Regions from separate parts of the Homo sapiens genome. Here region 1 is linked to region 2. The links come from fine-mapping of genetic effects on gene expression. A gene starts in region 2. The other region holds a variant in brackets. All regions are shown on one strand. Distances are from middle to middle.

Region 1 (4,000 bases), 22 kb before region 2:
GGTGCGATCTCGGCTCACTGCAACCTCTGCCTCCCAGGTTCAAGCAATTCTCCTGCCTCAGCCTCCTGAGTAGCTGGGATTACCGGCATGTGCCACCACACCCAGCTGATTTTTGTATTTTTAGTAGAGACGGGGTTTCACCATGTTGGCCAGGCTGGTCTCGAACTCCTGACCTCAAGTGATCCGCCCGCCTCAGCTTCCCAAAGTGCTGGGATTAGGGGCATAAGCCGCCGCGCCGGCCTGGACTTCTGACCTCTAAACAATCACCTGGCCCTACCCAACACCCCACAGACACACCATCCATGTGCGCAACCATGTGAGTCTGAAATTACAGCATTAGAAGTTCACTCCTTTGCTTTCTCTCAGAGTCATGCTTTAAAACATAAAAATTGGGAGAATTGACACATTATGCACACTCATTCTGGGGTGTTAGTAACTTGTCAGCTGAGGCTGGTGAGGCGCCCTGGAAAGTGCGGGAAGAGGCACTTGGAAGTGACCAGCGACAGGCTCCCGGGCTTACTTCACACCCTGGCCCAGGCCAACTCCATCCTGATGGAGAAGGACATTAAAGGTAAGTGCCAGCAGAGAGGGGGGCTCTCATACGAGGGGAAGTCAGCGGGGGCGGGAGGCCCTGGAGAGCCTCCCAGGGACACCCAGGCCCTGCCTGTGAGGACGATGGCGGTGGAGGCAATGAGGCGATGGAAGTCCACGGCGGCGTCGAAGGGCACGTAGCGGTTGAGGAAGGTTTCTCGCAGGAAGGTGATGAGGTTGCGGCACATGGTGAGCAAGATGTAGGAGAACATGAAAGAGATGCTGGCTGCTGTGCCCCGCGACAGGATGATTCCCACGCGGGTGGTGTCTGTGATGCCCGTGTGATGTGCGGCAAAGGCGTAGTCTGTGGAGGGGGCCCAGGCAGGCAAGCGAGGGTCAGTGCAGAGGACAGAGAGCTGGTTAGGGGCGGTAGGCCCTGGCCGGCTGCCACTCACAACAGGCCTCCCCCGCACAGTCTTCACTCAGACAGGCTCCACTTACCCTACCCAGGGCTGGCACTTATCGCAGGCCCCACCCCCAGGGCGATCACTCATTGCAAGCCTAGGGACAGGGCTCGTGGTAAGTAAAGTCACTCACAGTAGGCCCTCTCCAGGAAAAGCCCCCCAGCGATGGCGTAGAACACGGCCACGCAGCCGATGTGGCGCCGGTAGTTCTCAATGAAGCGCTTGAACTGTTGCACCGTCTGGTGGAGACAGCTGCGTTGGAACTTCTCTCGGTGCGCCTCAGTGAACAGCAAGGGCTGGAATGACGTTACCCTGGGAGACAGGAAGCCTTAGCCTTTGGCACCCACCATGGGACCCAACGCTAGTGGGGCCCCACTTCACGGAGGTGAGCCGCCCAGAAGTGAGGGAAGCCCACTGCTTCCGAGAAAGAAACCTAGTTACCCTTGTGGAAGAAGGGTTCAGACCTCACCGCATCAGGCTATATTGCACTGCATAAGCAAGCTGGCAGTGGAGGGATGGCTTGGAGTGGTCATTTCTTCCCAGGGGATGTACTCCATCTACCTGTGTTCATTCACACTCAGTCCCTCTCCTTCCAGTCTGTAGCTCCCAACTCCCACCC[G/A]GCGCCCATATTCAGCCTTTACTAGAGACTCAAAGGACACCTCTTCCATGAAGGCATCTCTGACCTCCCTGGCAGAGGTGAGTGCTTCCTTGAGTTCCAAAGCCCTTCGCTCTTACCACTATTAGAACAGTCATCAGTGGGACATTGAAATTATCAGTGTACCAGATTCTCTTCTTAGATTGTGATGTTCTTGGGCAAGGACTATTCACCCTGCCTGTACCCACAATGTTTAGCACAGTGCCTGGCACCAAGGAAAAGATGTTTATAAGCTGAAGGAATGGATGAACTGCCTGGGCTTAAGGGGAAGAGCAGACATACTTCTTGCCAAACCTCCGCCGAATCTCCTGGGGAGGGTCTGTGTCCATGGGGCACTGCAGTCTCTGAGGTGTCAACTCAGTCTCAATGTCGCTGCGGGAACAGCGGGCACTCACTCTGGGAGAGGGACTAAGACAAGAATGGTAAGAGATAGGATGCTGGCCATCTCAACCACTCGTTCCTCTGCTATCCTGGTCTGCCTCCAAACCCATTCTGCTGAGGAAGGATCAGAGCTGTCAGCAAGGGGACAGCAGGATTCCCACAGTCACCTATAGACAGAGTCTGATCTTGGGGGTCCTCGCTAAGGCTGCTGCATATGCCTTTACCCTTCACAAGGGCATCTGGGCCAGGCCGTAAGTGAGAGCGGAAATCCAGCAGGCTTTCTGCTTGCCCTGGCACAGGGCTGTGTCTGCCTAGAGAAAGGGGTGTCCTTTTCTAATTTGTTTGAAGGTGCTGCATGGGCTAGCGGTGGCCCTGATCCCAGCCATTCAGGGGAGAGAAATGGCAACTCCCCAACTCCTCCCCCCGACATTCCCAGATGGGTGCTCACCAGATCATATCCTGGCTGATGTAGGAGGCTCGCCGGCAGAGGTCCTTGATGACTTCAGGCACCTCCACCCCTGCAAAGCAGAGCCAGGCTAGGGAGCAGCTCAGGGTCCAGAGCCCAGGAAGACCTGGCTCAAACGCACAGCACTCCTACCATCCCATGCTCAGGCACAGTAGACAGTCCCAGACCAATGGAGGCCCTGCTTTCGGGTGCTCCAACCTCAGCCCTTGTCCCCAATGGGAGCTGGACCCAGCCATAGGTGGGCAGGGAAAAGGCCTGAAAGAAAGTTGGCCAGGCAGGCTTCCCTAAAGTGTGTCCATCATCAGTCCCACTTCTGGGACTATGGGGTAGATTTCGGGAACTGTATATAACCTGCCTTCTGAGCCTGCTCTGCCATAAAAATTTGGCTTAAGATCCTCTAGCTTAAAACCTCCAAGAGCTAAATGTAGAATCTAGGTGGTAGGTATATGGGAGATCACGCTACAGTTCTTTTTACTTTTCTGTGTTTGAAAATGTTCATAATAAAATATGCAGGAGAAAAGCTCTCCCAGGAGCCACCCCATTGTTCCTGTCTAGGCTGAGCACTGAAGGCAGGGCAGGACTAAGCTGCAAAGCCAAATTCTTACAGGAGTCCTGGGAATCTCTGGGTTTCTTCCAAGTGCTGAACCAAGCCTGAAGATGACCCTGGTCTATAGTTGAGGTCAAAAGAAGATAAGCTGAACTATATTAAAATTAAATCAGAATGTTTAAAACAAAGTATTAATGCCTGTACTCTCAAATGTTCCACAAACAGCAAATGTGGTAAAATGGTAACAAATAGCATATCTAGGTGAAAAGTGAAGGAACATCTCTTTTTTTGAGACAGAGTCTCTGTCGCCCAGGTTGGAGTGCAGTGGCACAATCTTGGCTCACTACAGCCTCCGCCTCCTGGTTCAAGCGATTCTTGTGCCTCAGCCTCTGGAGTACTTGGGACTACAGGCATGTGCCACCACACCTGGGTAATTTTTGTACTTTTTTAAATAGAGATGGGGTTTCTCTATGTTGGCCAGGCTGGTCTCAAACTCCTGACCTCAAGTGATCCTCCCACTTTGGCCTCCCAAAGTGCTGGGATTACAGGCATGAGCTATTGCACCTGGCCTTTTGTTCCTTTTCTTTAGTTTTAAAATCTTTATAAAAAAAATCTGGAGTCAATAACAATTAAAAGAAAACAATACTCAGTGCTAATCTTCCTCAATCCCCAAGCCTGGTTTTACCCTCCACCCCAGGTGTTGGATGTCCCTGGGACTCTGTGGTGTGGGCTCCCTTCCATGCACCTTCGTTGCCCCTGCCCTTAGGCTCAGGTGCCTGCTGCCCTGGCTGCCTGGGAAAGGTAAAAAGCTGCAGAATCAGGAGTGCTGGGTTCCTTCTCTTCCAGCTCTCCTTACCCCCAGGGGGAAGCCCTGACCAGAGGCTCATCTGTGTCTTATCTAACTTGCCCCTCTTCCCTGTGGAGGCTGCTCAGCCTACCCCTTCTCATAATTCTGG
Region 2 (4,513 bases):
GGGCCAAGGTCACAGTAGGTAGCAAAGTTCAAGAGACTCACTCTTTCCGAAAATTCTTTAATTGATTCGGCAAATACTTCATGAGCACCACTACATACCAGCCACTGACATAGACACTGGAGATTAAGTGACGAACAAAACAAACAGAAATCCCTGGTACATACCTTCATGGACTTTACCTTCTAAGATTAGTTGGAAAACCCTGCTTTGGCCCAGCACTCTGCAGAGTGTGTTCCTTAGGCAGGGCCCTGCTTGGGGATCAGGAGACTAGGCTGAGGTCTCAGTGCTGCTCCCAGTCCACTGTGGGATCTTAGATAAATCACTTCTCCAATCTGATCCTTGTTTTCCTCTTCCAGCTATGGGAGCAAATATGCCTGAACTGTTTACTTCTAAGCATGGTTGCCAGAATCAAATGTGAGAAGGAGGTTTAATTCAAAGCAAGTGACAGGTGTTGGGCAAATGTGATATAGAGAGGGTAGGCGGGAGCTTGTCTCCTCTGGTTGGATCCAGAAGGGATGCACTACCAGGTGCTCATGTATTTAGTGCAAGCTTCCTGCTCTCTCTCTCTCCACCCAGAGTCAACAGGGAAACAGAGGCAGCAGAGGACTCAGGCTGGGACTCCTGAGTGCGAGTAAGGAGTACCTAAAGCCGGCGAAGACCTCCTGAAGGCAACCTGGAGATTGGGGTTAGGATAGAGGAAGAAAGGAGCTCAGGGAAAGCCTCATCCCCAGCCAAACATCAGGGTTCCTGGATGGGTTGTCTAGAGGAGAGAACCCAGGGAGTGACCTCATCCCTACTCCATCTCCTATTAAATGAAAAAACCTAGGCCCTGCCATAACTGGAAAGCTCAGTATCACCTGCTGCATTTCACAGAGTCTGTCCAGGTGCTGGCCTTTAATAGTGCATGAAGAGCTGGGCTCTGGATGGTTGAAGCTGTAAAGCTGGATATACGGAAGTAGCCACAGCGGTCCTTCCCTGATCCCAAGATGTCATTCCCCTCCCCCGCCACCACCATGTCTTCAGGATCCTGGGCCTCAACGCTAATGTACCACTCAGCCCCTAAGGGCATGAAATGGGCTTTCAGACCAGGCTGTGTGGGGATGACCTGAAGAGGAAGGTGGACATGCTTAATAACCACTCCTTGTGGGTGGGTTGCCCTTAATGATTTACACAACGATGGGGCAGTAACTTCTCAACAACCTTGACAGGAAGGTTGCCCAGGACAGGGCAGTGAAGCCCCAGGCAGAGCCAGCGGCAGAACCAGAGAGAGAACACAGGCCTGCCTGTTCTTGCCCCACATGGCTGCTTTTCCAGCCTGAAGCCCTAGAGTGGTGACCCTGGTGGCCCTGAGGTGGGAGGAAGATGGGTCAAGGCCATCTTGGTCCTAAGGGAGGGCTGAGGGGGAAAGCTTGGATCCTAAAGCCCAAAGCTCCCTCCCTGGTATGTTGTGCTGGTGCCAGGAGAAGAACCCGCAGGCCCAGGCAAACTAGGCCACCCAACATTCCCAGGTCCCAAAGAACCCAGTCTCTCAAAACCTTGATTGGGCAGAGGACAGGCCCTAACAGGACCGGTTTTAGCCTTAGGATAAGATCGGAGGCGCAGGGGGCTAGCATTCCCCTTTCTTCCATAACGTGGAGGAGCTGCGGCTCCCCCGCCACCCTGCCCTTGGAGCTCCCTCCCCCGGAGCGCCCAGGCCCGCGGGCCGGGAAAAGCCCTCCCAAATCTGACCTGCGGCCACGGCGTCACCAGAGCCCGGGACTGCAACTTGTCTCCGGCCTGGCTGCCAGCTGGGCCCGCGGAGCCCTCTCTCGTCCGGTGCCTCTGCAGCTCTGCGCCGGGACGGGCGGGGCTGGGGGTGAGGAGGGGAAGGCACGGCCCGGCTCGGCTCAGCCACGGGGCGGGGCGCAGTGGGGCGGGATGGAGTCTGGCGCCTGGGGAGGCGCGGAGGTGCTTCCAGCGGACGGCAGCGCGCGAGGTGAGACGGCGAGGGCTCCCGGGGCGCAGGTAGAGATGTTCCGTCGGTGCCGAAGGCCCGGCTAGTGCGGTTGTGTGGACGGCGAAAAAAGCAAGTCCGCCTTCACAAGTCCCATGGGGCTGGGGAGAGGGTGGGAGGCGGAGAGGGTATGGGGAGGGGAGACTCTCCTCAGATCCTCTCGACACCGTCGGGTCTGGGCTCCAAGTCCAAGGCCATCGATCACCTGCCACCCACAGACCAGGCCAGGCGTCAAAGCAAGTCACCCATCCGACCTAAACCCCTCTAAGACCCCGGAGTCACGTCTCCCTCCGGGGATCCTCGTGAGGTCTTGGGGGTCCCACCGCCCTGCGAGCCGCGCCCGCGCCCCGCCAGACCCGGAACTGCGTCGCTAGGTTTGCGCTGGAGCTGCTGGGATTGCTGGGCATGGGTGGGGGGGCGCAGAGGAGGAGGGGGGATTGGAGGGACCTCTGCGGAGCTGGCAGACCCCGGTACTACTGTCCTGGCGCACCCAGCCCTTCTCTGTACCAGGCCGGGAGAGGGAGGCGGCGCCGCAGAGCCTCGGGTGCAGTCTGAGAAGTTTGGGAGTGACTTGAAGAGTGACTGGAAGCACCCCAGACCCGGTTTGTCCGGTCACAGCCGGGTCCTTACGTGAGTTAGGAGAGGAGTGGGGGTCGGACGGGAGCCCCACTGAGAGTAAGGGCGCGCGTTTGTTCACAGAACGTCGGGACCTGGTTCCCTCTTTAATCACACCCCCGGGGGCGCTTCGTGTGAGGTTCCACGGGGGAAGGCGAGAGGCGCAGGCTGCCACACACGCACTGTTTGGAAGAGGGGAAGGTAGGGAATAGTGGTCCGGGTGTGGGTGGTGGGGGATGCGGCTGCTTAGATCTGTGCGGTCCAGGTGATTTTGGAGGGGGTCTTGAAGTGCTTGCTCCCGCCCTGGCACCTAGGGCTGCACTTCCTGCTTTCATCCAGACCAAGTTCGGATCAAGTGGGAGTTCTTCAAAGAGAGAGTTTGGTAAGAAACTGGGGAGGCAAGGAAAACCTCTTAAGGCCATAAATGCCACAAGGTTTATAGACATCGAATCGCCATCCCAGTTTAACTCGAGTCTGGATACTTTGGCTTGCATGATTCTGCACCCTTGAATTCCTTATCCACATCAGCCCTTACTGGGGAATCCTGCCTCCAATCCACTTTTCAGATCTTGTTCAATTTCTCCACTTAACTCCTATTTTTGTGCAACAACACACATATACATTCATACACAGATACACACGTACACACAGACCCCTTCCTTGAAGAGGAAAGTCTAGCACAGGAGTTCCTGACAGGGTCCCCTTAGCTAGCCACAGCTGTAAACGTTTAATGGGGTCTACCCCAATCAGAGAAAAAAGCATCACATTGCAGTAGCTGTGCATTACCAATCAGAGGTCTTGGCAACTCCAGCCATGTCACCCACTCCCCACTTGTGGAGAATTAGTGGCCCTTACTCTATAGTTTCCAGCAGATGGGGGAGGTGGGCAAGGGGGAAGACTTCAGGAAAAAAGTCCTGTCAGGCTACAAGAGAGGCCACAAGACGTTAGCACATAACTTTGAATGAAGAAGGCTGGAGGTTGTTCTAGGCTGAATTTTCTTAAAGATTGTAACTTTATGTTTTACCCACCTCTCATACACACATAGGAACTCCACTTCAACCTGTGGTAGGTAAGGATTGGGTAATTGTGTCTATAATAAGATTGAGCATAAGGAAAGTCTTCAGTACATAAGGGAGCCTGGAAAGGGAGGATGCTGCCTCCTCCTCCCTAGGCCAGGTGAGAAAGGAGGACCCTAAAGTGTGGGAAACTCCCCCCACCCCATGAGAAAGCATCCCAATTTTGTCACAGGGGCCTGGGATGAAGTCTATATTACTGAGAATGACAGTCTGGGTGGTTCTTGCGTCTGTGTCTCTGTTTATCTAAATTTGTAGGTGCATATTTGACTGTATCTTGTGTCTGCTTATTTATATCAATGTACACTGTGCATACATCCTAGTCATGGTGATGAGGTAGGGGAGGAGTGGGTCAAGTTAATATTGATATGAGATTTTCTCACATTAAAACTAATTTTACTGTCAGATGTTACTTGACGAGCCAGAAAGAAAGATGTTCCCCAGGGAAACACAAGCGTTGTAGGAAAAGCAGGACTGTGGGGTGTGGGGTCTTCTCATTTCTGTCCCACCTCTTCATGCATGAGCCCTGTTAGCTTAATAATGAAAACAAAATTAGGGTCAGGGTCATGAAAAATTAACTTTAAATTAGGCAATGCAAATAAAGGAAGACCTAAGTTATGAAATGGAACAAGAAGAAATTAAGAAAGGCAAATTTCATTTACCAACTGTTTTTTTGCTTCTGTCATCTTTAATAAATATGACATTTTGGAGAACTGGAAATAAGTTAACATTGTTCTATACTTAAAATACGAAAAGCCTTTTGTTAGTGTTTCTTTTAAGCACATGTTAATAGAAATGAAACATTCTTGTAAATTTTTTTATAACCTCCCTT

Direction of the effects. Alleles are on the strand shown, and positions count from the first base shown. SD is a standard deviation of normalised expression in the study named.
For the expression in atrial appendage of the gene that starts at base 1,948 in region 2, allele A in region 1 goes with a lower level than allele G (large effect, 1.0 SD a copy in GTEx).

The links.
Region 1: its variant is fine-mapped to the expression of DUOXA1 in atrial appendage (GTEx, PIP 0.93).

Annotation. Positions count from the first base shown.
Region 1 is chr15:45,149,181-45,153,180 of GRCh38, reverse strand. DUOX1 (dual oxidase 1) reads right to left here. Exons shown (of 34, transcript NM_175940.3): 22 at 2,480-2,549; 23 at 1,933-2,058; 24 at 1,129-1,307; 25 at 665-895. LOC124903480 (a long non-coding RNA gene) reads left to right here and starts at 1,301. Exons shown (of 2, transcript XR_007064607.1): 1 at 1,301-1,691. The variant G/A (reference allele first, on the strand shown) is at 1,615.
Region 2 is chr15:45,127,314-45,131,826 of GRCh38, reverse strand. It overlaps DUOXA1 (dual oxidase maturation factor 1), which reads left to right and starts at 1,948. Exons shown (of 9, transcript NM_001276266.2): 1 at 1,948-1,975; 2 at 2,212-2,367; 3 at 2,693-2,809. DUOX1 (dual oxidase 1) reads right to left here and starts at 1,833. Exons shown (of 34, transcript NM_175940.3): 1 at 1,729-1,833.